Linked DNA regions of Homo sapiens: region 1 is linked to region 2. A link means that fine-mapping ties the variant in region 2 to the expression of a gene that starts in the linked region. Tissue or cell type: uterus. Region 2 holds a variant in brackets; the other region holds the start of a gene. All regions are shown on one strand. Distances are from middle to middle.

The links. PIP is the estimated chance that this variant, and not a neighbour inherited with it, causes the effect.
Region 1: it holds the start of MCF2L, and the variant in region 2 is fine-mapped to the expression of MCF2L in uterus (GTEx, PIP 0.94).

Annotation. Positions count from the first base shown.
Region 1 is chr13:112,967,730-112,970,333 of GRCh38, forward strand. It overlaps MCF2L (MCF.2 cell line derived transforming sequence like), which reads left to right and starts at 1,485. Exons shown (of 30, transcript NM_001112732.3): 1 at 1,485-1,729. The coding sequence starts at 1,651. It overlaps MCF2L-AS1 (MCF2L antisense RNA 1), which reads right to left and starts at 909. Exons shown (of 1, transcript NR_034002.1): 1 at 1-909. RefSeq lists an enhancer at 640-1,159 and a silencer at 1,361-1,420.
Region 2 is chr13:113,081,641-113,084,395 of GRCh38, forward strand. It overlaps MCF2L (MCF.2 cell line derived transforming sequence like), which reads left to right. Exons shown (of 30, transcript NM_001112732.3): 17 at 787-902; 18 at 2,358-2,427. Among named protein-coding and RNA genes, the nearest start is that of F7, 23 kb to the right of the region's middle. The variant C/T (reference allele first, on the strand shown) is at 1,431.

The sequences.
Region 1 (2,604 bases), 110 kb before region 2:
CTCTTTTGGACGCTGGAATGCTGGTGCATTGTTGCCGGATGCTGGAATGGTGCACGCACGCTCTGTTGGACGCTGGAATGCTGGTGCATTGTTGCCGGATGCTGGAATGGTGCACGCATGCCCTGTTGGACTCTGGAATGCTGGTGCATTGTTGCCAAATGCCGGAATGGTACACGGATGCTCTGTTGGACGCTGGAATGCTGGTGCATTGTTGCCGGATGCTGGAATGGTGCACGCATGCTCTGTTGGACGCTGGAATGCTGGCGCATGTGCACATGTTATTGGCATGAGCTGTAGTTCAAACCTCAGCCATATGATGCTTGAATTCCCAAACCATTCGTGGAAATGTGTACTTCTTCCTGCTGGAATTCTCTCTCTCTCTCTCTCTCTTTTAACTGATTGGGGAGTGAGGTGGGGGGGGGGGTCTTGCTACATTGCCCAGGCTCAAACTTCTGGGCTCAAATGATCCTCCTGCTTCTGCCTCAGCTTCTGCCTCGGCCTCCGGAGTAGCTGGGACTACAGGCCTGAAATACTGTTTCTTTAAGGAAGGGCATGTTACCTATAATACCAAACCACAAAAGGATAGCTGCGGTTTTGGGCGAGGAGAGCTCAGAGAGTTTCTTGCATATGGCCCTGTGATGGCGGCCATGGCCCTGCATAGACACGAGCTGGAATCTGCAGGTGGCAGCCAGGACGCTGCGTGTGTCGAGTGCACAGTGTGGCTTGGTGCCAACCATGGCGAGGGTGGAGAGCCCCGTGCCTGCAGCGCGCGCTTCCCTCACTGGGTCCTGCGTCCTTGGGCAGGCGATGCCCCTGCGGGGAGGGGCTGGTCCATCCCCGGCCAGCCACGGACCCACGCATGGACCCAGCGACCCACGGACCTGCTTACCTGGGCGCGGCGCGGGTGGCATGCGGCCACACGGAAGGGGCGCGCTGGGCTGCTGCGGCCTCTGCAGCTTCTACACCTGCCACGGGGCGGCCGGAGGTAAAGGGAGGCGGCGGCCAGGCGCGGCCCCGCGGAGGCAGCTGCACTCGCTCGGTCCACTCGCGGCTTCGCGGCTGCCCGCAAACCAGGAGGGCGTGGAGACCCGGAACCGGGGGGAAGGGCGGGGGCACTTGTGCGGCACCCGCGGGGCTCCCAGGGGACCTCGGCGGTGACACGAATTTCTAGGTGACCTTGGCGGTGACACGAATTTCTAGGTGACCTGTGTGATACACTAGGTGACCTAGTGACACAGGTGACACTTCCAGGTGACCGCGGCGGTGACCCGCGGGGCTCCCAGGTGACCTCGTTGGTGAGCCCCGGGGCTCCCCGACGACCGCGGCGGTGACACGCGGGGCTCCCAGGTGACCCCGGCGGTGCACTCACAGGACTCCCAGGTGACCCGCGGTGGTGACACACCGGGGCGGGCGCGCGCCGCTTCCGCTTCCGCCGAGCCGCCCCCCGCCCCCCGCGGCGCAGCGCGCGCCCCCCTCCCGGTGGCGCGGAACCAATCCTGGGCAGGGAGGCGGCGGCTGGAGGCTGAAAGCGCTGCCGTGGCCCCCTCCCCGCCTCCGCCGCGCCCCCTCCGCACTCGCACGGCCCCACCCGCAGGCGCCCCCCGTGCGGAGGAAGCGGATCTGCCAGGATCATTTTTGTTGTGTCGGAGGATGAGGTTTTGGCTGAGGACTGAAGAGATGGCCTTGGAAGAAATGGTGCAGAGATTAAATGCGGTTTCCAAGCACACGGGTAGGAGGAGCTGCTGGCCGTCAGTGATCTGTGCTTAAGCTTGACATCATGGGCTGAAATGTGGGGAAATGCGTCTGATTTTTGTAAGCCGCCCTCGTGTTCCTTTCTAGCCGTGGTAGCTGTGACATGGGGGGCACTGGTTGGCAGCTGGTGTGTTTTCAGAGGCTGTCGGCGATCGTATGCTGCCCGGGATAGTCAAAATGACTGCACGTTGGTGACACTGGCTCTCTCAGGGTTGCTGGGTCTGCATGCGGAGCCATTTGTGTGTCTGAAGTCTGCCCATCAACCTGCCTGTCCGCAGCCCTCGCAATGGAGAATGCATTGCGAATGGAGAATGATCTGAGCCAAGGGCTTTCAGAGCTTGGGGTTTCAGAGCCAGGGGTAGGGATGGTGAAGCTACCTGGAAGCTCGTTTTGAGGATGAAAAAACCTGGACTAATCAGGTGGTTCTTTTCTTCATTAAATGCAATTTAAACCTAAGACAGATGTTTGAGACGGTATGGGTAAAGAGTGGACTGGACGTTCATTTTCAGTATTAATCGAAATATTACTTCAAATAAGCTTTGAAGAGTAGTTCAGATCGATTCTTTTAGGTGTAAGCAGAGACTGGGCTGACAGCTTGCATCTGGCCGTGGCTTTCAGGCGGTCGCATCTGAGTTCTCAGGCTGTGTTATGCAGAAGGGAGAGGCATCCTTAACTCGTTTTCCTTGAAATGAAGAGGAAATAATGATATATCATTAAAAGTAAGTTGCCAAGTGTTTTGCCTGATGTTGCCATATGTTATGTCATATATGCCATTACTAGTTGTCTAACTAGTACTTGCCTGGGAGATTAAAATGTCAGTTGCTTGGTTTGGGTGTGGTTCTCTTTCTCTGC
Region 2 (2,755 bases):
GATTAGAGGTGACCTTGGCAGTGGGCTGTTGCCTGGGTGAGCTTGATGTGAGTGGTGGTCACCTGAGTATAGACAGGCATCTCATTCACCCAGTGTGCACAGGTAGTGATCACCTGAGTGTAGACAGCGAGTGTGCACAGGTGGTGGTCACTTGAGTGTAGACGGGTGTCCGAATCACCGAGTGTTCAGAGGTGGTGGTCACCCAAGTGTAGACGGGTGTCTGATTCACCGAGTGTGCACAGGTGGTGGTCAACTGAGTGTTGACAGGTGTCTGATTCACTGAGTGTGCACATGTGGTCACCTGAGTGTAGACAGCGAGTGTGCACATGTGATCACCTGAGTGTAGACAGCGAGTGTGCACAGGTGGTGACCACCTGAGTGTAGACAGCGAGTGTGCACAGGTGGTGGTCACCCAAATGTAGACGGGTGTCTGAGTCACCGAGTGTGCACAGGTGGTGGTCACCTGAGTGTAGTCGAGTGTCTGATTTACTGAGTGTGAGCAGGTCACCCGAGTGTAGACATAAGATTTGTGCCCTCTGTTTCAGTTACACCTGAATCATAAAAGGTTAAAAGGGAGAAGGGTAGAACCTCCACCCCATTCCCCCAAATTGGTGCTGTTCATAATGCTTTTGCTTTGATGGATGCCTGTCCCGGTAACTTAGAAATCACCCGAGAATAAAGATGAAGGGCTGGCCTGGCCCACAGATGAGCCGGCATCCCTGGCCCACCTGCCCCCCCACAGCATCAGGCCCAGGACCCCCGCCGACCTCTGCGCTCTCCCTGCAGGGCTACGCCGCGGAGATGGATAACCCACTGATGGCTCACCTCCTGTCAACAGGCCTTCACAACAAGAAGGATGTTTTGTTTGGAAACATGGAGGAAATCTATCACTTCCACAACAGGTGGGCCCTTCCCCCCGACACAGGCACGCACCCGTGATCTCTTGCAGCTAATGGTGCTGGCTTCAGGGGGCTGGAATGGGGGTGGAGGCCAGGCCATGCCTGGCTAGGGAGGGGCGCCCAAGGGGTGGACTCACAGAGGCACAGGCTTGAGTGTGGGTACATGGGGCCATCTCTGAGCGCCCACGTGGCACCGTACCTGGTGGCCTGTGTCTAGGCAGCCAAGTTGTAAGTGAGCCGCCAGCCGTGAGGAGAGGGCTCTGAGCCCGAGTGCGCCCTGTTTTGTGGTGCAGGAAATGGGACCCGCCTGCCCCTCATCCCCTCCTCATCCTGCTGGGCAGGTGGAAGCCGGAACCCCCTCCCAGGTGTGTATTCGGCCCTTTAGGGGGTCACCGAAGGCCATACCACATAGCAAGGCCTGTTTTGTTCCCAAGCTCTTGAAAAGGACGGCAAACTAGGCGTTCCTTACCCATCATGGGGGCTGCTTGTCCCCCGAGCGACCCGTGGCCTCTCCAGTGCAGGTGGCCTGTC[C/T]GGCCTCTTGTCCTCCACTCCTCTGAGCTGTTTGGCTGCTTTAACACAGTTTTGGGGAGCTCATGGGAAGGTGTAGGGTGCACACGCAGTGCAGAATGCCAGGGAGGCTGCAGTGGACAGCCCCCGCTGCGTGTCCTGGAAGGAACCCATGTGAGTGGCTCCCATGCGGCCATGTGCTTGGGGACCAGCGTGCCCCACTGGCCATGGGAATCGCCAGTGCTTGGGATGTTGTTCTGACACCTGTTTCTTGCCCTCTCATCACCTCACCTGCCACTTACAAGGAGGCAGCAGGTCTGCAGTTGACCACCAAGGAGCCTTCCACGTCCACGGAGCTTGGGCAGAACCTTAGTGTCCCTTAGTATCTGTCCTCATGGCCCCCAGGGTCTCAGCCAGTCCTGCACGCAGGGGTCCCCACAGCTTTCAGCTGTTGTGCTCATGCCCCAAATCCATCCCCCAGACGGTTTTCCCCTCCAGCCGGACTTCCTCCAGGGGACAGATGCAACAGAAAACAGCCCAGGAGCCTGGGGGCGGCGCTGCCTAGGGCCAGGGCTCAGGGTGTGTCTGCAGAGAACCCACAGACCCACGGCCAGTTATGGGGGTGGCGCCTCCAGGGCCCTGAAAGGTCCCATCTCTGTCTTTGCCTGCGGCCCTGTGAGCCGTGTGTGTGCTGAGGGAAAAGCAGCTCCCTCCAACTTCTGTGTGCAGCCAAGGCCAGAAATATAAAGAGACTCAGCCTGGGGCTGCACCTGCTGGCGCCTGAGAGCTTGGTGCTCAGGACAGGCGTGGCTGCGGCGTCTCCAAGTCATGCGGGGCAGATTGCCCAGAGCAAGGCGTAACAGGCTTCTGAAAAATGACGTCCATCCACTTGTCACTGGTCCACGTGACTCGGCCTGTCTTTCATACTACTTAAAAACCTTCTTTGTCTAGGATATTCCTCAGGGAGCTGGAAAACTACACTGACTGCCCAGAACTGGTTGGAAGATGCTTTCTGGAGAGGGTAGGTGGTGTTTTGACGTGTATTTTGTCACAACTTCTTAAAAGTACTGAATAATGACTTCAGATTCTACTGCAAGTTCCTATTCTAACCAACTGAAATCACAAAATACGATGTTTTCAATTTGGCTGAGATACCATGATGCTCCTGTACCCCTAGAACCTCCTGAACCCCCAGAACCTCCTGAACCCCAGAAAACCTCCTGAACCCCAGAAAACGTCCTGAACCCCCAGAACCTCCTGTACCCCAGGACCTCCTGTACCCCAGAACCTCCTGAACCCCAGAACCTTCTGTACCCCCAGAACCTCCTTTGCCCCCAGAACTTCCTGTC